3 separate regions of the Homo sapiens genome follow, and all the other regions are linked to region 1. The links come from fine-mapping of genetic effects on gene expression. A gene starts in region 1. Each other region holds a variant in brackets. All regions are shown on one strand. Distances are between the middles of the regions. Region 1 holds the start of SLC28A3 (solute carrier family 28 member 3). Region 2 has its middle 64 kb from the start of SLC28A3. Region 3 has its middle 28 kb from the start of SLC28A3.

Region 1 (8,291 bases):
GTTTGTCTCAAGACCTGGGATTCATAGAAAGGGAATATTCAGGCTAAGATAAAGATTGTGGAAACCAAAGTTCTTCTGAAGTTTTATAGTGGCTGCCCTTAGAGACAAAGGATGACAATGTTTCCTTTTCAAAATATGTCAAAGAAACATGTTTTGGGGTAAAATATTTTTATTTTCTTCCTTGTCTCATAATGTTATGCGAGTCAGGTTTGAAAGTAAGTCATGATATATAGGGTTAAATAAAACCCATCTGGGCCGGGTGCGGTGGCTCACACCTGTAATCCCAGCACTTTGGGAGGGCAAGGCAGGTGGATCACTTGAGATCAGGAGTTCAAGACCAGCCTGGCCAACATGGTGAAATTCTGTTTCTACTAAAAATGTAAAAATTAGCCAGGCATGGTGGCACACGCCTGTAGTCTCAGCTACTCGGGAGACTGAGGCAGGAGAATCACTTGAACCCGGAAGTCGGAGGTTGCAGTAAGCTGAGATCTGCCACTGCACTCCAGCCTGGGCAACAGAGCAAGACTCTGTCTGACCAAAAAAAAAAAAAAAAAAACCCATATGATGAGAATTTATGATTTGTAGGGCATGACTCCCCAGACCCCTTAGATCATAATTTGGGCAAGATAAAAAAAAAATCAGAGCTTAGTCCTCAGGTACTGTTATCTCCGTTTTATGAAGGAAGAATCTGAGATACAGAGAACTCAGCTACTTGCCCAAATTCCCATGGCCAGTAAGTCTTCCCACCTCAGCCTCCCAAGTAGCTGGGACTACAGGCACGTACCACCACACCTGGCTAATTGTTGTATTTTTTGTAGAGACGGGGTCTTCCTACATTGCCCAGACTGATCTCAAACTTCTGGGCTCAAGCGATTCTCCCATCTTGGCTTCCCAAAGTGTTGGGATTATAGGCATCAGCCAGGTAGTGGATATTTTGTCTTTGAGCCGTGTGGTATTTGTCACAGCTACTCAATTCTGTCCTTATGGGATGATAGCAGCCTTAGACAATACATAAATCAATGGCCATGTTTCTGTTTTTACAAAACTTTATTTATAGACACTGAAGTTTGAATTTCATATAACTTTAATGTGTCAGGAAATATTCTTCCTTTTAATTTTTTTCAACCATTTAAAAATCTAAAACCCATTCTTAGCTCTTGGGCCATATAAAAGCAGCAGAAGGTTAGGTGTGACCCTCAAGCTGTGGTTGGCTGTAGTTATGAGGTAGAGTCCAGGATTTGAACCCAGACCACAGGTTCCTGCAAGCCTTTAATCATTATGTATACACTGTACAGTCTGTATCATGATAACAAGAAAAGAAAAATAACTCCCACAGTCTGAGCTATGTGAGATATGCAAAATCTATCAGGCCCAGAGAGACTGGGCCTCAGTCACTGATAAAGAGAAAACAAAAATAACTCACACAGTCCCAGCTATGTGAGCAATGCAAAATCTATCAGGCCCAGAGAAACGGAGGGTTGGACTTCAGTCACCACTCAACCCTGTGCCCGGGGGCAATTTTTTTTTGCTTTTGTTTTTTGTCTTTTGTTTTTTTTTTGAGATGGAGTCTTGCTCTGTCACCCAGTCTGGAGTGCGGTGGCGTGATCTCGACTCACCACAACCTCCACTCGACTCACCACAACCTCCACCTCCTGGGTTCAAGCAATTCTCCTGCCACAGCCTCCCAAGTAGCTGGGACTACAGGCATGTGCCACCATGCCTGGCTAATTTTTGTAGTATTTAGAAGAGACAGGGTTTCACCATGTTGGCCAGGCTGGTCTCGAATTCCTGACTTCATGATCCATCTGCCTCGGCCTCCCAAAGTGCTGGGATTATAGGCGGGAGCCACTGTGCCTGGCCAGGGGCAATTGTTTTAAAGGAATTTTGTTCCTGACTGGCTGCCTTTCTGTTCCTAGAATGTGTGATACAAATAGCAATGTATAGCCAATCAATAGCTTATGTTATTTTAATGTAAATAATTGGTAAACAACTCAGAAACTCCTTCTTTTCCTTTAAAATTCACTTGTGGCCAGGCACAGTGCCTGTAATCCCAGCACTTTTGGAAACCAAGGCAGGTGGGAAGATTGCTTGAGCCCAGGAGTTCAAGACAAGTCTGGGCAACATAGTGAGGCCCCCAGTTCTACCAAAAAAAAAAAAAAAATTTAGCCATGGGTGATGGCACCTGTCTGTAGTCCCAGCTACTCGGGAGGCTGAGACAGGAGGATAGCTTCAGCCCAGGAGGTCAAGGTTGCAGCAAGCCATGATCATGCACTCCAGCCTGGGCAACAGAACACACACACACACACACAAGAATCTACTTGTAACTGCTACTAAGTGTATATTCAGAGCAACTTGAATATGTGCTCCCAAGTTGCAATCTCAAACTTAGACCAAATAAACTCTATACTTACATTAAGTTTGTCTCCGTTTTTTCCTTTAGGTTAACAATAATAAAAGTAAATCATTCTCTTTATAGAAAACTCAGCAGCATTTGAAGGAGAAAAAAAAAACACCAACTGCCCATAAAATTAAAAACCGAGAAATAACCACTCATAATACTTGGTATTTTCTTACTTTTTCTTTTTCTTTTTCTTTTCTTTTTTTTTTTTTTTTTGAGACAGGGTCTCACTCTGTCATCCAGATGGGAGGCAGCGGTGCGTTTTCGGCTCACTGCAATCTGTGTCTCCTGGGTTCAAGCGATTCTCCCGCCTCAGCCTCCCGAGTAGCTGGGACTACAGGCGCACGTTATCACTCCTGGCTAATTTTTGTATTTTTAGTAGAGATGGAGTTTCGCCATGTTGGCCAGGCTGGTCTTGAACTCCTGGCCTAAAGTGATCCACCCGCCTTGGGCTCCCAAAGTGCTGGGATTACAGGCGTGAGCCACCGCACCAGGCCTTTTCCATTCTTTTGTCCACAGTTTTGCAGTATTTTAAATTGTACTAGGGGGGAAAATCCCTATTTTAAAAGAATTCTACAGCTAATATTTTCATAAAGCAAAGTGAATTGCTTTATGAAAACAAAGCACTTCTATTCACTTTTGATAATTGAATAGCTGGTCACCTTTCATTTACTTGTCACATATCGGCATTTCTGTAAGCTGGATTTTTGAAAGCAGCCCAGTCTGAAGCAGGGATGTAATAAAAGGTTTTGGAATTAACCAAACTTGAATTTGAATTCTCATTATCCCTTTATTAGCTAAATGACACTAAACAAATTGTTAACTTTTCTGTACTTCAGTATAGAATTTTGAGTTGTTCGGAAGAAGAGCCAAGACCCTTACCTACCTACCTATCTGTCTATGTATCTATCCATCTATCCATCCCTGGTATACAGTAGGTGATCACTGAGGGCGGCATGACCTTATATCCTGTGTTCACTCACCCTCCACCCCACCACCACTCCTAGTCTTTAACACCACCCACAGGAAAACAGAGGATTTCACTAAGCACTATAGAGAACGTGTCCTTTTCTGGCTGGGCACGGTGGCTCATGCCTGTAATCCCAGCAATTTAGGAGGCCAAGGCAGGTGGATCACTTGAGGTCAGGAGTTCAAGAACAGCCTGGCCAACATGGTGAAACCCCGTCTCTACTAAAAATAAAGTCAGCCAGGTGTGGTGGCATGCACCTGTAATCCCAGCTACTTGAGAGGCTGAGGCAGGAGAATTGCTTGAACCTGGGAGGCAGAGGTTGCAGTGAACCGAGATTGCGTCACTGCACTCCAGCCTTTTTTTTTTTGAGACTCCATCTCAAAAAAAAAAAGAAAGAAAGAAAGAAAAAGAAAGTGTCCTTTTCTGTTTTGTGCACCACAAGAGTTTTCTCCCCAGGAGTGCAAATAGGATGCCAAAAATGGGGATAAAGGAAAAGATTAATAAGGTGGGCGGGCCAGCACTAGATGCCTCCACCCCGCCAACCCGCCCGCCTCTCTGCCCCACCCCAACCAGGTGTCAGCCCTAGTCATTCAGGAGATTATTGCAGAAGTTTCCAAACTGAAGCAAGCTGTGCCCAGGTCCCTGTAACAGCAGGTGGCTTTCTGACATCAGCAGAGACTGGTGCTTTTTCCCAGGTACAAAGGACCTCCAGACCAGAGCCAGCCAGCAGCAAAAAGAGCATGGAGCTGAGGAGTACAGCAGCCCCCAGAGCTGAGGGCTACAGCAACGTGGGCTTCCAGGTGAGCAGAGCTTTCCTCTTATGTTAAAGGCCTTCAGTGGAAAAGCTGCCCTTTCCTTAGCCCCTTGGCAAGTTTCTTACCTAAGCAGGGAGATTATCAGGACAATACGATTTTTAACGGCACACTTTAAGCCCATTATTTTTTCTTCTTGGGCTCTTCTGGGTTGACAAACCTGAAAAGTCTCTTTTAATCGATGTGTTGTGATCCCTATGGTCACTTAGAAACAAGACAGCCTTCTTCTCTTGCCTTTTTTCCCTTCTGGCTCACAGCAGGGGTCCATTATTTATCTTCAGGCACTTTTCCAAAGAACTGGTGAGAAGGGAAAAATGGGGGAATTTAGATCCTGGCTGGGGTAGTGTCTCAGGGTTCCTTTTACTCAAGCCAAGTCCTGGAGCCCCTGTCAGATGGCCCCGGTACCTGCCCCAGAGCAGCTGGATTACGCAAATCAGTCTCACTTCATCAACCAAAACTCACTGAGTGATTAATGCTGCTCAGCCCGAGGCTGGGTGCCCGCAGAGACATAGAAGGAGACCTGTCAGAAACACCAGGCTATTTTGACTGGGTCTGGGATGGGGATTTCCAGGGCTGTTTTTAGGTGTGCTTCCTTTCCTTAGCTGACACTCAGCATGGGCGCTCTGGAGAAGATGGGAAGCCTGCACCGGCAAGTGTCAACAATCCCTTGGACTTTACGGTCTGCTAGATGGGCAAAACAAAACTTTGAGGTGCTAGCCAAGAAAGGAAAGAGGGAGGTAAAAGGGCTTTGACAGGAGTTCAGACTCCAGCACCCACAAATTCCTGTAACTTCCCAGAGCCCAAGTTTGATCATCTGTCCCATGGTCACAGTGATGCCCATCTCCATGAGTAGGCATCGGGTTACCACTTATAGGTCACAAGTGTAGGAGAGGAAACAACTTCATCTACCCTCTTAGGTTGAGTGCCTGAGGCCTGCAAATTAAACCAACATAAAACAGATTAGCAGGAGAAAAGGCACGCAAATTTTATTCATATTTAAAATCTCACATGTGGCTGGCAGTGGTGCCTCATGCCTGTAATCCTAGCACTTTGGGAGGCTGAGGCGGGCTGATCATTTGAGGTCAGGAATTTGAGACCAGCCTGGCCAACATAGTGAAACCCCATCTCTACTAAAAATACAAAAATCAGCCGGGCATGGTGGTACATGCCTGTAGTCCCAGCTACTCGGGAGGCCGAGGCAGGAGAATCACTTGAATCTGGGAGGCAGAGGCTGCAGTGAGCCAAGATCGTGCCTCTGTACTCCAGCCTGGTTGACAGAGGGAGACTCAGTCTCAAAAAAATAATAATAATAAAATAAAATCTCACATGTATGAGAGCCTCACATAAAAGAAACGGAAAAACCTAATAGACTCAGGAGCTTATATACCATTAAAACAAAGCACGGCAAATAGTGAAATGACTAGACAAAGGAAAAGAGGGTTATGCTTTTAGGGACAATAAAGTGGGGGTGGGAGGTGGAAATAATGGAAGATAAGGGTTAATTTATCGAGGTTTGTTCATGCAGATTTATCTCAGCGGCATCTCTGTCTTTGGTGATAAGGGTTGCTCTCTTCCTTGTATGAGCAAGCGGGACACCTGTGCAAGGGAAATATCAATAAATGTGCTGCTTTTAGGAAGATGGGGGATGGGGGAGGGCAGAGAGCTCTTTCTGTGTCTGCTTTCTTTTTCATAGCCTTCAGTTCAAAATATTCTTGTGCCAAAATGTGGGCATTTGGAGGGTGGCACATCCTGATCTCTTCTCTAAGGGCTAAGTGAGGGGGAAAAGCATAAAGCATGGGCCCATTCTGATTCCAGAGAATGGAAAGGATGGAATTGGATAGAGTCAGAGGAAGTATGGCAGCAAGAAAATATATCTGCAATAGAGAAGGTCCATGTCACAGCAACTGGCTGCTCCCAGGGAGGAGGGCACACAACGGTGGTGATCCCTCACTGTCTTCTAGCAAAACTGCTGTTTTGTGGGGGAAACATCCCCCTACACCTGCCCCAATAAAAAGAAGGAAAAATGAAAGGAAGCTTCCTCCTAGTTCTGTAAAATTTCCTGTCATCCTTACTCATTGGATTGATTGAAATTTGAATTTCTACATTTCAAAATCAAAATAGTGAAGACAATTTGTCTTTCAAGAGAATCAGAGGCCTCATAACTCCTGCCAAGTTAATAAGTATGAGTCTTACCTTGTTTGACATTCAGCTCTCCTGCTACATTATCTTCTTTAAGGAAAATTAATTGATTGTAAAATATGTGCTACTTCACTCGCATTATTAAATATGCATTAACATGCCACCAGGACTTCCAAATAAGTTAGGATGCTTACTTATTCACCTTGTCCTAGTCTGTGAATTGTGCTAGAAATTCATTTTTCTTCTTCAAATATTAAGAGTGCCCTTGGTAGACCAAAGTTCTAATTTTACTAAGTAGAACTACTTTCACAGCTTGAAATGCTGATATGGGTTCCCAAAAGGCCTGTGCCTGTAAGACCTGGTGCAGGTGCAATGGTTATGCATATCTATGGATTACCTGGACAGGCTCTCATCTGGACTGTTCCTCAAAGAAGGGAGCACCAATTGCTGTTTTCATGGAGCTAGTACTCCAGTGGGAAAGGTTAAACAGGAGCACAAAGTCAGTGATATGGGTTATAAGAGAGAAATGATCTCACCTCCAAGAAAGGATTTCACAGCTAGAGCACACTTCATACATGAGAGTGGATTTTGTAACCAACGATAGAAATGAATGTTAGGGTTTTTTTTTTCTAATCTCATTTTATTGTACCTCTAAACGTTTTCTATGAATAAGGAACTTATTTCTCATATGGCTGAGGATGGAAATGACTTCATTCAACAGTAGTTGCAAATAAGACGTTTGCTATTTATGAAGGAAGTTCGGATTGGCATTTAAAGTATTGCGTGTATGTGGAATATCTAAGGATTTCTTATTTTATTTTAAAATATTTTTTAAACCTTAAAACAGTCAGCAAACTGGCTCTTGATTTTGTGCAAGATGTTCCCATCAGTTCAGGAAAAATAACTGCCTGAAAGGACAAAGTACACACACACACGTGTGCAAACACTCACACCCACATACGCATACACACACGCGCGCGCACACACACAGGCTAGCATCCCCAGGCCTCAAGGTTCTAAGCAGGGCATCTCAAACCCAGCAGAGTATCATACCAACAACACCCACACCTAAAAACAGTGACTGGGTTATTTCTATTTATTCAGTAGAATCATCAACTGCCCCCTAGATATGGCCGCCTCTAAGAAGGGATACCAACTCAAGAAAGAATAATATGCTCTTCTTGCCCTCAAGGAGAAGGACAGGCAGAAATAAGCATGCAATTACAATATAATTGATGTTAAGGAAAATGGCGGAGGTTTGCACCAAGTGCATTGTATTCTTATATTTATTATTTTTTATATTTTGTCTTGCTATCTTACCAGGGCTGGTCTGAAACCCTGGCCTCAAGCAATCCTCCTGCTTTGGCCTTCCAAAGTGCTGGGATTACAGTCATGAGCCACAACACCCAGCCAGCACCAAGTGCATTGTAAATAATATATAGCTGGAGCTGAGCTGACTGAGGAGTCTGTGACAGCATCACCAAAGGAGGGAGAATTTGATTAGGGCTTTAAGGATGGTCAGGTCACAGTAGGAGGTGGGGTGGGCAGAGCACTGCAAGCAGAGAGAACTATCTGTACAGACTCAGAACCCTAAAGGAGAAGAGCACATGAGCCTGGGATGGAGGAAGGGAACACGGTATAGGGAAAGGGGGCAGGCTGGCATCAGGTCAGGTGGCCTCTGCGTGTGCTAAGGCATTTTAGAAGGAATCGCTCAGAATTTACGCAGTCAAATTGTGATTTTTTTTTTGAGACAGGGTCTCACTCTGTCACCCATGCTGGAGTGCTATGGTATGATCTCAGCTCACTGCAGCCTCAACCTCCCAGGCTCAAGCAATCCTCCCACCTCAGCCTCCTGAGTAGCTAGGACTACAGACATGCGCCACCACACTTGGCTAGTCTTTGTTTTGTTTTGTGTTTTAGAGATGAAGTCTCACCCTGTCGCCCAGACTGGAGTGCAGTGGCATGATCTTGG
Region 2 (8,291 bases), 64 kb before region 1:
GGACGCCATGGAGCAGGGGGTGGCGCTCGTCAGGGAGACTCCGGCGGCACAGGAGCCCACGACGGGGGTGGGGGGAGGCTCAGGCATGGCGGGCTGCAGGTCCCGAGCCCGGCCCCGCGGGGAGGCAGCTAAGGCCCGGCGAGAAATCGAGAGCACCGCTGCTGGGACGGCCCTGCTGGGGGACCCTGCGCACCCTCCGCAGCTGCTGGCCCAGGTGCTAAGCCCCTCACTGCCGGAGCCGGCGGGCCGGCCGGCGGCTCTGAGTATGGGGCCCGCCAAGCCCACGCCCACTTGAAACTCTAGCTGGCCCGCAAGCGCCGCACACAGCCCGGGTTCCCGCCCATGCCTCTTCCTCCACACCTCCCCGCAAGCTGAGGGAGCCGGCTCCGGCCTCAGCCATCTCAGGAAGGGGCTCCCACAGTGCAGCGGCGGGCTGAAGGGCTCCTCAAGCGCCGCCAGAGTGGGCGCCCAGGCAGAGGAGGCGCCGAGAGGGAGCGAGGGCTGCCAGCAGGCTGTCACCTCTCAGGATTACAGGCTTAAGCCGCCACACCTGGCCGGCAAATAATCTTTGTAAAGAAAAAACAGAAAACTCTTAGACATATTTCTTTTTCTTTTTTTTAATTGAGACAGTCTCTGTTGCCCAGGTTGGAGTGCAGTGGTACAATCTCAGCTCACTACAACCTCCGCCCCCGGGTTCAAGGGATTCTCCTTCTTCAGCCTCCCCAGTAGCTGGAATTGCAGGTGCCCGCCACCATGCCCAGCTAATTTTTGTATTTTTAGTAGAGACAGGGTTTCACCATGTTGGCCAGACTAGTCTTGAACTCCTGACCTCAGGTGATCTGCCTGCCTCAGCTTCCCAAAGTGCTGGGATGGGATTACAAGCATGAGCCACTACGCCCGGCCCCCAGTTCCTTTTTTGCCCTTCCATCTGGTACTATGTGAGGACATAGCAAGGAGGCACAGCATGAAGAATGGGATCTCGGCAGACACCGAATCTGCCATTGCCTTGATCTTGGCCTTCCCAGCTTATAGAACTGTGAGAAAATAAATTTCTGTTTTTTATAAATTACCCAGTCTTGGGTATTTTGTTATAGCAGAACAAATGAACAAAGACATACACTGAACATTTTGAATGATATGTTGTAGAGACTCTTGATTTTGTTTTTCTCTAAAAACTGTGATTTTTTTCTGATAAGCAGTTAAATTACTAACATGTCATATTGATCCTGTCAAGCCTTGGGATTTGGCTTTCTTAAGGCAGGTCTATTTCATCTTTGCTCTCAGCCCTACAGCATGTCCCTTATTCCTAGGACATAGTGATTTCCCCTAAGGTGAGTGTTGTTTTGGGTCTCAAATGTTCCGCTCTACTTTAGTTGAATCAGAACTCCAACATCTCCCTAACAGATCAAACTTCTAAAATCACTGTTTACCTCTCAGTCCCCTAGAAGCTGTTCTCAGCTAGACTTTGCAGAGTCTGAGTCAATAAATATGCAACTAAAGATCTTGCCAAGGACCTGAAGGAAGCTCCTATACAGATTTCTGATTGTTTCTCTTCAATTGCCTTCTCTCTGGTATCAGACCTGCAAGTTCAAGCAGTCTTAGCTACCCTCACTTTCTGTCTTCATTTTCTCCACCAGGCAAGACTTCAACTATCTGGTTGGGCTCCATTTCCCTACAGTTTGGAAAATGTCTCAAGCAAAAAGTCAGTATTGGTTAGGCATGGTGGCTCATGCCTGTAATCCCAGCACTTTGAGAGGCTGAGGCAACATGGTGAGATCCCATCGCTACAAAAAAGAAAAATTAGTGGGGCATGGTGGCTCATGTCTGCAGTCTCAGCTACTCAGGAGGCTGAGGTAGGAGGATCACTTAAGTCCAGGAAGTCGAGGCTTCAGTGAGCCATGATCGCACCACTGCAAGACAGACTGGGTGACAGAGCAAGACCCTGTCTCAAAAAAACAAAATACAGGCTGGGCATGGCGGCTCATGTCTGTAATCCCAGCACTTTGGGAGGCGAAGGTGGTTGGATCACCCGAGGTCAAGACTTCAAGACCACCCTGACCAACCATGGTCAACATGGTGAAGTCTCATCTCTACTAAAAATTAGCTGGGCGTGGTGATGTGCACCTGTAATCCCAGCTACTCGGGAGGCTGAGGCAGGAGAATCGCTTGAAACTGGGAAGCAAAGGTTGCAGTGAGCTGAGATCACACCATTGCACTCCAGCCTGGGAACAGAAGGAGACTCCATCTCAAAAAAAAAAAAAAAAAAAAAAGGCAGCATGAAAATGGACCTCACTTTGTGTGCTGTCTTTCAAGAATTGCAGTCCTGTGATGTCTACTGTCCAATGCCTAACAATACATGTTCATATATTTTGCCCAGCTTTATAATGCTAATAGCATAAAAATAAACCTGTTGCTCTGTCTTGACAAAGATTGAAAGTACTTTATAGGGCCAGGCCCATTGGCTCACGCCTGTAATCCCAGCACTTTGGGAGGACGAGGAGGGCGGATCGCCTGAGATTGGAAGTTCGAGACCATCCTGACCAACATGGAGAAACCCCATCTCTACTAAAAATACAAAATTAGCCAGGCATGGTGGCACACACCTGTAATCCCAGCTACTCAGGAGGCTGAGGCAGGAGAATCGCTTGAACCCAGGAGGCAGAGGTTGCGGTGAGCCAAGATCGCACCATTGCACTCCAGCCTGGGCAACAGAGTGAAACTCTGCCAAAAAAAAAAAAAAAAAAAAAAGAAAGAAACAAAGAAAGAAAAGAAAGAGCTTTGTATTTTAACACTTCAGTAATTTTCACTTTTCTAGAATAACAAAGACCTCTAACGCAAAAGTCATCAAACACCAGTTTAAAATAAGTTCTAAATTGGGAATGAGAAGACCAGGTTACTCCATGAGTTCTTTTACTGCCTAGTTGTCATTTAAGCTCCCTGATCCTCAGTATTCAACTCTGTAAAAACAACAAGCTGAGCTACACGATCACTGATGTCTCTTTTAGCTCTAGTGTAATACAATTCTTCTATTCCCATTACGTACATTAGATTAATGGGTTGTACTACTTCAGGAATCAAATCAGCGGTTCCTCATTAAGGCAAATGTTTTTTTTGTTTTTTGTTTTGTTTTGTTTTGTTTTGTTTTTTAGAGACAGTCTCACTCTGTCACCCAGGCTGGTGTGCAGTGGCATGATCTCAACTCAATGCAACCTCCACCTCCCAGGCTCAAGCAATTCTATGCTTCTCCCAAGTAGATGGGACTACAGGTGTGCACTGCCACACCCAGGTAATTTTTGTATTTTTAGTAGAGATGGGGTTTCACCAAGTTATCCAGGCTGGTCTCGAACTCTTGAGAACTCTCGAACTCTCAAACTCTGGCCTCAAGTGACCCAACCGCCTCAGCCTCCCAAAGTGCTGGGATTCAAAGCCTGAGCCATCATGCCTGGCCAGGCAAGTCGTTTCTAAAGTTCTCAGTTCCAACAGCCTATTGAGAAACTGTTGAGCCTCCAAGCTCTCTGGAAGTCCTCTCTGATGCTTGAACAATGGTGCATGGAGGTACAGGTTGGTACAGAGGGTGAGAGCCTGTGAGCAAGATAGAGGAGCATGGGTGGTGGACTAAGTAAGACTTCAAAGCCCAAGTAACCCAGCTTCCAAACTCACAATGAGTTCCTATCACTTCTGAATCTGTTGCCTCATCTGTGAAATGGCTAAAATGATCCTGCCTTGCAGGGGTATTCTGGGGGTCAAATAAGATAATGCATGAGTTTGGGGTAAACCTGAAAGGCTTTTTTTCACTGATATTTAAAGATGCATAGGAAGTCCCTTAGTGGCCTCTGAGACATGGCGACTCATACATTAAGGTTTCAAAAGTCTTCCTCACCACCTAATCTCCACCATCTCTGCTACAGGGATGGGGAGCAGTCGGTGTTCAGCAGAAACCCCCAAGGTGGCACCTTGTCACCTATCCCCTTCCTTAAGAAGTAACCAGATTGTCATGTGAGACCAAAAAGAAGAGAAGAGTTGGATCAATTAACACTATGTCAAGAAGGAAGCGGAATAAGTCTATTGGATTTTGAGGAACACAGCTGGGGTCAGGGGCATGCACCTATAGTCTCAGCTACTCAGGAGGTTGGGGCAGGAGGATC[T/C]CTTGAGCCCAGGAGTTCGACACCAACCTGGACATCATAGTGAGCCTCTTTAAAAAGGAATAAAATAAAATAAAATAAAGATATTGAGGAATGCAAAAGAAAACATCTCAATCCTGGTCTCTTCAATCTGTCTGCCTACCCACCCAGTGTATTCTCAGAACTAAAGAGATCCAGGGCTTTGGATCCCAGGAGGAGGTCCCCTGAGCCACTTATGAGGACTGGCTCCAGAGGAGAATGACTGAGAACTCCAGAAAACGCACTGAGGAGCGTGTTACCCTGGACTGAGTGAGTGTGTGGAGAATTGCCTTTCTTTGAAGGCCCCAACTTTCTGGACTGGGTCATAGGGCAAAGACCACGGGGTCCAATGGATGGATGGAGGACAATTTGTGTTCATCAGCGCCCTCAAGTGGCGGTGATGAGCAGCTGCAGAGCTGCGGACCAACACTTAGTTTTTTTTTCCCTACTTGAAAATTGAACTTTGGAGAAATTTCCTTTTAGACTGCAAAAGATTCAAAAGGTTCACAGATGATCCTTAAAGGAGAGAGGACCGACCCCAAAAGTGTGATAATGAGCTTTTTGCCAATCTAGTGGATGGTGTGTTGTAGATAAGTTCATACTTACTACATGCATGAAGACCAGGGCTCAACACATGGTAAATACTTAATTAACCATCATTATGAATAAATGAGAGCTTAATCAAATAAAGATTAAGGTATATATGATGGGGACATGACTTCTTAGTTAAAATGCTGTCGACTAAAATGCAAGCTCCAAAAGGGTAGAATTGGGCCAGGCGCAGTGACTCATGCCTGTAATCCCAGCACTTTGGGAGGCCAAGGCCAATGGATCACTTGAGGTCAGGAGTTCAAAACCAGCCACATGGTGAAACCCCGTCTCTACTAAAAATACAAAAATTAGCCGGGTGTGGTGGTGGGTGCCTGTAATCCCAGCTACTCAGGAGGCTGAGGCAGGAGAATCACTTGATCCCAGGAGGCAGAGGTTGCAGTGAGCCAAGATCGTATCACTGTACTCCAGCCTGGGCTACAGAGTGAGACTCAGTCTCAAAAAAATAAATAAATAAAAGGTAGAATTTTTGTTTGTTTTGTCCACTGCTATACTGCCAGCATTTAGAACGGTGCCTGGCATGCTCAACTTGATGAATATTTGTTTAATTGAATGTTAAATGAACTGGGTGGAGGACAAAGTCCAGGCCTCTTGTACCATGCCACACAGCTGTGTCTCAGGCCCTTTACTGTCCAATGTATTTACCACCAGCATGAAGAAAGACTGGGAAGGCTTGTTTGCCAAACCGGCCAAAACACCAAGCAGGGAGAAATAGTCACTATGCTGGATGACTTGTAATATGGTTTGGCTGTGTCCCCACCCAAATCTCATCTTGAATTGTAGTTCCCATAATCCCCACCTGTCATGGGAGGGACCCAGTGGGAGGTAATAGCATGGTTACCCCCACACTGTTTTTCTCATAGTCAGTGTGTTCTCATGAGATCTGATGGTTTTATAAGGGGCCCTTTGCCCAGCACTTCTCTCTCTCCTGCCACAATGAGAAGATGTGTTTGCTTCCCCTTCTGTCATGATTGTAAGTTTCCTGAGGCCTCCCAGCCATGCCGAACTGTGAGTCAATTAAACCTCTTTCCTTTGTAAATTACCCAGTCTTGGGTATTTCTTCACAGTAGTATGAGAATGGACTAATACAACTTCTATCAAGATCCAAACAAAAAGAACTCAAACTAGAAAACTGGGCTGAAACCAACAAGATAAAATGTAATTCATACAAATTCCCACATACACAATGAAAGAATATCAAATGTGCAATTTCAGGATGGAGAAGGCCTGCTTTGTAGCAGTCCCTGATGAAAGGCCTGGAAGGCCGGCAGCCAGGCCTGTATTAACAACACTTGACACAGCTGTGAAAAATCCTTACACGGTGGCAGATACCTTCATTGGAAGAGGGTGTCCAGAATAGGGACAAAGTGGCAGGACAGCTCTCCAGTGCTGCCTGTAGAATGTCACATTCATCTGGGGTGTCACAGGGCTCGGGCCCAGAAATGAAGGGAGGGACACTAAAAATTGCTGTGGAGAAGAGATTAATGGAGGGACATGACTTAATGTTGTCTTCAGCTATGTATAGGGCTGGGCACGATGGCTTACAACGATAATTCCAGCACTTTGGGAGGCCAAGGTGAGAGGATCACTTGAGCCCCAGAGTTTGACACCAGCCTGGGAAACATAGTGAGACCCCATCTCTCCTAAAAATAAAATAATTAGCCCAGCATGGTAGCACTTGCCTGTAGTCCCAGCTACTAGGGAGGCTGAGGCAAGAAGATCACTTGAGTCTCAAAGGTCAAGGCTGCAGTGAGCTGCATTTGTGCCACTGCACTCCAGTCTGGGCAACAGAGTGAGAAGACCCTGTCTCAAAAAAAATGTGTGTGTGTGTGTGTGTGTGTGTGTGTGTGTGTGTGTGTGGTGTGTATGTAACTGCCCTTGGTTCTGGGCACACCCAAAATACAAGTCTAGGACTGTACTATACGGAAATTATGAGGAAGCTTTAAAAGAGCTTTCCAGGCCGGGTGTGGTGGCTTACACCTGTAATCCCAGCACTTTGGGAGGCTGAGGCAGGCAGATCACTTGAGGTCAGGAGTTGGAGACCAGCCTGGCCAACATGGCCAAATCCTGTCTCTACTAAAAATACAAAAATTAGCCAGGAGTGGTGGCGCATGCCTATAATCCCAGCTACTTAGGAGGCTGAGGCAGGAGAATTACTTGAACCTGGGAGGTGGAGGTTGCAGTGAGCCAAGATTGCACCACTACACTCCAGCCTGGGAGACAAAGTGAGACTCCGTCTCAAAAAAAAAAAAAAAAAAAAAAAAAAACAGAACTTTCCAGTTACCTAGAACTGTTCAGAAATAGTATTAGCTGTGTTAGAAAGTTATGGTTCCTTCTCTTTCAAAAAAAAAAAAGAGAGGAGAATGAGAATTTCTATTTATTAAGTGCCTGCTGTATACAGTGCCAGACCAGAAAATGCATATCTCCTTTCTTCTTTCTTCCTGCACGTATTATTAATACAGAATTCTTACATCCAAAACTATCTGTATCCATATCCATAGATGGGTGGTTAATTAGAAAAAAAAGTTAAGGCAAGGAATCATAAAAGATTATACATACATACCTTAAATATTTAACTTAACCCGCCAGAATGCGTTTTTTTCAACTTTGACATAGAACCAAGTCCTGTCTTTGAGAATTGACCTACTAATTGGAGTCTGCATGGTCTCCTTTCATAAACTCCAACCATGATTTCCAGTTTCCATTTTTTTGTTTGTTTTGTTTTTTTGTTTTTTGTTTGTTTGTTTGTTTGTTTTTGAGACAGATTCTCACTCTGTCCCCAGGCTGGAGTGCAGTGTGGCAGGATCTCAGCTCACTGCAACCTCTGCCTCCTGGGTTCAAGCGATTCTCGTGCCTCAACCTTCTGAGTAGCTAGGACTACAGGTGAGAGTTATCATACCTAGCTAATTTTTGTATTTTTAGCAGAGACAGGGTTTCCTCATGTTGGCCAGGCTGGTCTTGAGCGCCTGACCTCAGGTGATCCACCCATTGTGGCCTCCCAAAGTGCTGGGATTACAGGCATGAGCCGCCACACCCAGCTATTTCCATTTCTTTAAAGTGGAGCAAGAACTTAAACTCTGTTATGCAGCAATCTGAGAGGAGACTTTTACCTGGCTTTTATTGTTTTTCGCAGGCCTCTACAATCATCTCTTAATTTAAAAGACAGTTTCTTATCAGCTCACAAACTTCAAGCCTTTACATTGCATTTAACCATTTCAGAGAAAGTAGAGACAACTCCATTCTTATGGCATTCATATTTCCTCAATTTACATAATGTTTGATTAAATTATATGATTCTGTTATTTGGTAGAGCTGGCCTGGGCAGGCCTGGGAGAGAACATGACTGTGGCTTGGCTCCCTCTCAGCTGCTGGACAAGCCCGTGTGTAGTTCCCACAGTGCCTCCTACCAACCCTGTGCTGCAAGCCACAGGCACCCATCAGCTCACAGGGTGGACGGCAAGCGAGTCAAGCTGCAGGGATGGTTCCATGGAAATCTGTTGAGAGCCTCCACTCTACCTTTCA
Region 3 (8,291 bases), 28 kb before region 1:
AGGCCAAGAAGACATGGGTTCAGTTAGTTTACTCTCAGTACAGCAGCTGAGTGCTGATTTTAAAATGTAAATTTGGAGGCCGGGAGCAGTGGCTCATACCTGTAATCCCAGCACTTTGGGAGGCCAAGGCGGGTGGATCACTTGAGGTCAGGGATTTGAGAACGGCCTGGCCAATATGGCAAAACTCCGTCTCTACCAAAACTACGAAAATTAGCCAGGCGTGATAGAGCGTGACTGTAATCCCAGCTACTTGGAAGGCTGAGGCAGGAGAATTTCCTGAACCCAGGAGGCGGAGGTTGCAGTGAGCCGAGATCACAGCCACTGCACTCCAGTCCCGGCAGCAGAGTGGGACTCTGTCTCAAAACAAAAAAAAAAAAGTAAATTTGATCATGCCATGCCCTACAGAGTCCATCTTCATCTGACTTCATCTTCTACTCCCTCTCCCCAGCTCCTCCACCCTGACCAGGCTGCAGTACTTCTGACACAACTTCATGCTCCCACGTTAGGGCGTTTTTAACAGTTCTTGCCAGTACTTTGACCACAGATATCTTCTTGCACAACCTCAGTGAGTTCACCCTATGAATACTGAGAAATATGAGCCCTCCTGCCCCCTGGCATTTCAAAATCCCTTCCTCTACCCAACTTTTTCCTTTTTTTCCACAGCACTTACCACTTTTAGCATAATACAGTGAACCCATTTGTTATATTTGCTGTTTCTTTTCTCTCTTAAAAGTATTTTTTTAGTTTCTTTTTTAAATTTTAATTTTTAAAAAATCTATGAGGGAAGCAGAGCAAGTTGGCAGAATAAAAGGCTCCACCAATTATCCCCTCCCCAAAAAAAAAACTCCTTAAATGGGAAAACATTCCATGCTTATTCATAGGAAGAATCAATATTGTTACAATGGCCATACTGCTCATTGAATTTATAGATTTAGTGCTATTCCTATCAAACGACCAGTGATATTCTTTACAGAACTAGAAAAAACTATTTTAAAATTCATATGGGCTGGGTGCTGTGGGTCACAACTGTAATCCCAGCACTTTCGGAGGCCAAGACAGGTGATAATCTGAGGTCAGGAGTTCAAGACCAGCCTGGCCAACATAGTGAAACCCCGTCTCTACTAAAAATACAAAAATTAGCTGGGAGTGGTGGCCCACTCCTGTAATCCCAGCTACTCGGGAGGCTGAGGCAGGAGAATCGCTTGAACCCAGGAGGCAGAGGTTGCAGTGAGCCAAGATCACGCCGTTGTGCCCCAGCCTGGGTGACAAGAGTAAAACTCCATTTTGGAAAAAAAAAAAAAAATCAAAGGGTACCAAAAAAAGACCTCAAATAACCAAGGCAATTCTAAGCAAAAAGAATAAAGCTGGAGGCATCACGCTACCCAACTTCAAACTATACTACTACAAACTATACATCAGGGCTACAGTAACCAAATAGCATGGTACTTGTACAAAAACAGACAGATAGACCAATGGAACAGAATATAGAGCCCAGAAATGAGACAACACATCTACAACCATCTAATTTTCGACAAAGTCAACAAAAACAAGCACTGGGGAAAGGACTCCCTATTCAGTAAATGGTGCTAGAATAACTGGCTAGCCATGTGCGGACTATTGAAACTGGACCTCTTCCTTACACTACATACAAAAATTAACTCAAGATGAATTAAAGGCTTAAATGTGAAACTAAGAACTATAAAAACCCTGGAAGACAACCTAGACAATACCATTATGGACATAGGAACAGGCAAAAATTACATGATGAAAATGCCCAAAGCAATTGCAACAAAAGCAAAAATTGACAAACGAGATCTAATTAAACTAAAGAGCTTCTCCACAGCAAAATAAACCATCAACAGAGTAAAAAGACAACCCACAGAATGGGAGAAACATTTCGCAAACTATGCATCTGACAAAGGTCTATTATCCAGCATCTATAAGGCACTTAAATTTTACAAGAAGACAAACAACCCCATTAAACAGTGGGCAAAGGACATGAACAGACACTTTTCAAAAGAAACATATATGTGGCCAACATGCATGTGAAAAAAAGCTCAACATCACTGACCATTAGAGAAATGCAAATCAAAACCACGATGGATACCATCTCACACCAGTCAGAGTGGCTATTATTAAAAACACAAAAAGTAACAGGGGTTGGTGAAGTTGTAGAGAAAAAGGAATGCTTATACACTGTTGGTGGGTGTGTAAATTAGTTCAGCCATTGTGGAAAACAGCGTGGCAATTCCTCAAAGATCTAAAAAGAGAACTACCATTTGATGCAGCAATCCCATTTCTGGGTATATACCCAAAGAAATATAATCCTTCTATTATAAAGACACATGCACACATATGTTCATTGCAGCACTGTTAACAACAGCAAAGACATGGACTCAACCTCAATGCTCATGAATAGTAGATTGGATTAAAAAAATACAATATCTATACACCATAGCATACTATGCATCCATAAAAAAGAATGACATCATATCCTTTGCAGGAACATGGATGGAGCTGGAGGCCATTATCCTTAGCAAACTAATGCAGGAACAGAAAACCAAATACTACATGTTCTCACTTATAAGTGGGGACTAAATGATGAGAACATATGGACATAAAGAGGGGAACAACAGACACCGGGGCTTACTGGAGGGTGGAGGGCTGGAGGAAGGAGAGGATCAGGAAAAATAACAAATGGATAATAGGTTTAATACTTGGGTGATGAAATAATCTGTACAACAAACCGCTGTGACACAAGTTTACCTATATAACAAACCTGCACATTACCCCTGAACTTAAAAGTTAAAAAAAAAAGAACCAAAAAATCACATGAGCCCTCAAAGTACCCCCACCCCTCCATTCCACGCTTGACCCCAGCAGTAGCATGGTGCGGAGCGCGTCTCTGGGCACTGAGGGAGGGAGTAAACAGCAGTTGTAAGGCATTGAACTCAGTGCTGTTCTGTTAGAGCAGAAAGGAAAACTAAACCAAACTCAGCTAACACCCACCTATTGGGGGAGCATTCAAACCAGCCCTAGCCAGAGGGGAATCGCCTATTCCAGCTGTCTGAACTTGAGTTCCCACAAACCTCACCACTGAGGGCTACAGTGCTCTGGGACTCTAAAAAACCTTAAAGACAGTCTAGGCCGTAAGGGCTGCAAATCTTAGGCAAAAAAAAAAAAAAAAAAAAAGTAAATGTGATCATGCCATGCCCTACAGAGTCCATCTTCATCTGACTGCATCTTCTTTTTTTTTTTTTTTGAGACAGAGTTTTGCTCTGTCGCCCAGGCTGGAGTGCAGTGGCATGATCTTTGCTCTCTGCAACCTCCGCCCCGCTCCGGGTTCAAGCAATTCTCCTTCCTCAGCCTCTTGAGTAGCTGGGATTATAGGTGCCCAGCACCATGCCCGGCTAATTTTTGTATTTTTAGTAGAGACAGGGTTTCATCATGTTGGCCAGGCTGGTCTCAAACTCCTGACCTCAAGTGATCCACCTGCCTCGGCCTCTCAAAATGCTAGGATAACACATGTGAGCCACCACGCCTGGCATGACTTCATCTTCTACCCCCTCTCCCCAGTTCCTCCACCCTGACCAGCCTGCAGTTCTTCTGACATGACTTCATGTCCTAGGGCTGAACTGGGCCCAGAGACAGTGGACTTGGTGGGGGGGCAGGGGTGTGGCATGTGACATACTGAGACACCAGCTGGGGTGCCCCTCCTCTAACTCCAGGCTGCACAGCCCTCCGCTGCATAAGACACTCCTTCCTTCCTCTTGAGGAGAGAAGGAAGAGTGGGGAGGACTTTGTCTTGCATCTTGGATGCCAACTCAGCCACAGCAGGATAGGGCACTGGGCAGAGTTGTGAGGCCCCCATTCCAGGCCCCAGCTCCCAGATGACATTTCTAGACACACCCTGAGTCAGAAGTGAACCTGCCACCTTGAAGGAAAGGACCCAGTCCGGCCAGCATTCAGCATCTGCTAAATGAAGAGCGCTTGGGACCTGAACAACCAGCAGCGATACCC[A/C]GGTACTGTATCAGTGTGGGGGAAAAGAAGAGAGATCAGACTGTTACTGTGTCTATGTAGTAAAAGAAAGACATAAGAAACTCCATTTTGATCATATTAAGAAAAATTGTTCTGCTTTGAGATGCTGTTAACCTGTAACTTTAGCCCCAACCCTGTGCTCATAGAAACATGTGCTGTATTGAATCAAGGTTTAAGGGATTTAGGGCTGTGCAGGATGTGCTTTGTTAACAATATGTTTGCAGGCAGTATGCTTGGTAAAAGTCATCTCCATTCTCCGTCCTTTATTAACCAGGGACACGATGCACTGTGGAAAGCCACAGGGACCTCTGCCCAAGAAAGCCTGGGTATTGTCCAAGGTTTCCCCCCACTGAGACAGCCTGAGATATGGCCTCATGGGAAGAGAAAGACCTTACCATCCCCCAACCCGACACCCATAAAGGGTCTGTGCTGAGGCGGATTAGTAAGAGAGGAAGGCCTCTTTGCGGTTGAGATAAGAGGAAGGCCTCTGTTTCCCGCATGTCCCTGAGAATGGAATGTCTCCGTGTGAAGCCGACCATTCATTCTACTCTGAGATGGAGAAAACCGCCCTATGGCTGGAGGCGAGATATGCTGGCAGTGATACTGCTCTGTTACTCTTTGCTACACTGAGATGTTTGGGTAAAGAGAAACATAAATCTAGCCTACGTGCACATCCGGGCACAGTACCTTCCCTTGAACTTATTTATGATGCAGATTACTTGCTCATATGTTTTCCTGCTGACCTTCTCCCCATCATCACTCTGTTCTCCTGCCACACTCCCCTTGCCGAGATAGTAAAAAATAGAAATCAATAAATACTGAGGGAACTCAGAGACCAGCGCCGGTGCAGGTCCTCGCATGCTGAGTGTGCGGGTCCCCTGGGCCCACTGTTCTTTCTCTATGCTTTGTCTCTGTGTCTTATTTCTTTTCTCAGTCTCTCGTCTCCACCTGACGAGAAACACCCACAGGTGTGGAGGGGCAGGACCCCTTCAATCAAGGGCCTAGGGTGAGCCTCTGAAACTTGCTAGCTTCAGATACCAGCACAGCCACAAATGGGCAAAGCACCAGGCAGGCTTTTGGGGTCACATATTTCAGGACCTGGCTTGTGGATATCTCTGGACCTGCCCTGGGCCAGAGGGGAGCCCATTGCCCTGAAGGGTGAGTCCCAGGCCAGGCAGCATTCACCACCAGCTGACTTAAGAGACTTTGGGCCTTAAGAGAATATTGGCGGTAGTATGGCAGTACTTCCTGTGGAGTACTCCCCGTGGCCTGCGGTGGTGGTGGCTATGAAGTGAGGCTCCTCTGCCTTTGGAAAAGGGAGGGAAGAGTGGGAAGCACTGTGTCTTATGGTTTGAGTGCCAGCTCAGCCACAGTGCAGGTAGACTTCTAAGGTTTTCATTCTACTCCCTGAGGCCCAGACAGCACCTCTGGACCCACCAAAGGCCTGGGGGAGCTTGCTGACCTGAAGGGAAGGACACAGGCCTGACTAGCCTTGTCACCTGTTGACTGTAGAGCCCCAGGGCCTTGACAGAACATAGGCAGTAGCCAGGAAGTGGTTACAGAAGGTCTTGGGTGAGACTCAGGGCTGTGCTGGCTTCAGGGCTGACCCAGCACAGTCACAGTGGTGGTGGCCACAGAGGTGCTTGTGTCGCTCCACCCCCAGCTTTAGGTGGCTCAGAACAGAGAGAGAGATTCTGTTTGTTTGGGAGAAAGTAAGGGAAGAGAACAAGAGTCTCTGCTTGGTAATTCAAAGAATTCTCCTAGATCTTGTCCAAGACCATCAAGGAAGTACCTCTACAAGTCTGCAAGAACCACAGTGTTGCTGAGCTTGGGGTGTCCCCCAAAGCAGATATAGCTTAGATTACAACACTCTAGACCTTTCAAATATCTGGAAACCCTTCCCAAGAAGGACAGGTACTAACAAGCCCAGACAGTGAAGACTACAATAAACACTTAACTCTTCAATGCCCAGACACCAAAGAACATCTACTAGCATCAACACCATCCAGGAAAACAAGACTTCACCAAATGAACTAAATAAGCCAACATGGACCAATCCTGGAGAAACAGAGATATTTGGCCTTTCAGACAGAAAAATCAAAATAGCTGTGTTGAGGAAACTAAAAGAGATTCAAGATAACACAGAAGGGTCAGAACTCTATCAGACAAATTTAACACAGAGATTGAAATAGTTTAAAATAAGCAGAAATTCTGGAGCTGAAAAATGCAACTGGCATATTGAAGAATGCATCAGAATCTTAATAGCAGAATTGATCAAGCAGAAGAAAGAATTAGTGAGCTTGAAGCCAGGCTGTTTGAAAATACAGTCAGTTTACAGCCATACCACCCCGAATGCACCCAATCTTTTTTTTGTTTTTTTGTTTTGAGATGGAGTTTCACTCGTGTTGCCCAGGCTGGAGTGCAATGGCACGATCTTGGCTCACCACAACCTCTGCCTCCTGGGTTCAAGCAATTCTCTCACCTCAGCCTCCCAAGTAGCTGGGATTACAGGCATGTGCCACCACGCCTGGCTAATTTTGTATTTTTAGTAGAGACAGGGTTTCTCCATGTTGGTCAGGCTGGTCTCGAACTCCCAACCTCAGGTGATCCTCCCACCTCAGCCTCCCATAGTACTGGGATTACAGGTGTAAGCCACCACGCCCAGTCTTCGAGCACACCCAATCTTGTCTGAAAATATACAGAGACAGTAAAAGAATAAAAAACTGGATATCCATATGCAGAAGAATGAAACTAGAACCCTATCTCTCCCCATATACAAAAATAAATCAAAATGGATTAGACTTAAATCTATGAAACTACTACAAGAAAAGTTTGGGAAAAATCTCCAGGACATTGTTATGGGCGAAAATTTCTTGAGAAATACCCCACAAGCACAGGCAACCAAAGCAAAAGTGAACAAATGGGGTTATATCAACTTAAAAAAAACTTCTGCACAGCAAAGGAAAAATAGCAACAAAGTGAAGTTTTGCAAACTACTCATTTGACAAAGGATTATAATCAGCATATATAAGGAGCTCAAACAACTCTATAGGAAAAAAAATCTAATAATCCAATTTAAAACTAGGCAAAAAGATTTGAATAGACATTTCTCAAAAGAAGACATTTAAATGGCAAACAGGCATATGAAAAGGTGCTCAACATCACTGATCATCAGAGAAATGCAAACCAAGATTACAGTGAGATAGCATCTCACCCCAGTTATAATGGGATATATCCAAAGACAGGCAATAACAAATGCTGGTGAGAATGAAGAGAAAAGGGAACTCTTGTACACTGTTGGTAGGAATGTAAATTAGTACAGACACTCTGGAGAATAGTTTGGAGGTTCCTCAAAAATCTAAAAATAGAGCAACTATATGATCCAGCAATCCCACTGCTGGGTATATACCCAAAAGAAAGGAAGTCAGTATATTGAAGAGATACCGGCACTCACATGTTTGTTGCAGCACTGTTCACAATAGCTAAGATTTGGAAGCAACCTAAGTGTCCATCAACAGATGAATGGATAAAGAAAATGTGGTTCATATACACAATGGAATACTATTCAGCCTTAAAAAACAATGAGATTCAGTCATTTGCAACAGCATAGATGAAACTGGAGATCATTATGTTAAGTGAAATAAGCTAGGCACAGAAAGACAAACATCGCATGTTATCACTTATTTGTGGAATCTAAAAATTGAAACAATGGAATTCATGGGCATGGAGAGTAGAGCATGGTGACCAGAGGCTGGGGAGGGTAGTGGGGGTCTGCAGGGGAGGTAGGGATGGTTAATGGGTACAAAAAAAACAAAAAGAATTAAAAAGACCTACTATTTGATCACACAACAGATTGACTATAGTTAATAATTACTTAACTGTACCTTTCAAAATAACTTAAAAAAGCGTAATTGGCCAGGCACAGTGCCTCACACCTGTAATCCCAACACTTTGGGAGGTGAAGGCAGGAGGATCACTTGAGGCCAAGAGTTCAAGACCAGGCTGGGCAACATAGCAAGACCTTGTCTTTACAAAACAAAGGTCAGGCGTGGTGACTCATGCCTGTAATCCCAGCATTTGGGAGGCTGAGGTGAGTGGATCACCTGCCAACACGGCGAAACCCCATCTCTACTGAAAAAATACAAAAATTAGCCGGGCATCAAGGGTGCATGCCTATAAGCCACTCGGGAGGCTGAGGCAGGAGAATTGCTTGAACCTGGCAAGCAGAGGTTGAAGTGAGCCGAGATCGTGCC

Evidence for each region. PIP is the estimated chance that this variant, and not a neighbour inherited with it, causes the effect.
Region 2: its variant is fine-mapped to the expression of SLC28A3 in monocytes (Quach 2016, PIP 0.95).
Region 3: its variant is fine-mapped to the expression of SLC28A3 in whole blood (TOPMed, PIP above 0.99). The same link has a PIP of 0.9 or more in monocytes and monocytes after LPS.

What each region holds. Positions count from the first base shown.
Region 1 is chr9:84,336,451-84,344,741 of GRCh38, reverse strand. SLC28A3 (solute carrier family 28 member 3) reads left to right here and starts at 3,984. Exons shown (of 18, transcript NM_001199633.2): 1 at 3,984-4,168. The coding sequence starts at 4,109.
Region 2 is chr9:84,400,541-84,408,831 of GRCh38, reverse strand. No RefSeq gene overlaps it. Among named protein-coding and RNA genes, the nearest start is that of SLC28A3, 64 kb to the right of the region's middle. The variant T/C (reference allele first, on the strand shown) is at 4,146.
Region 3 is chr9:84,364,183-84,372,473 of GRCh38, reverse strand. It overlaps a transcript of SLC28A3 not described here. Among named protein-coding and RNA genes, the nearest start is that of SLC28A3, 28 kb to the right of the region's middle. The variant A/C (reference allele first, on the strand shown) is at 4,021.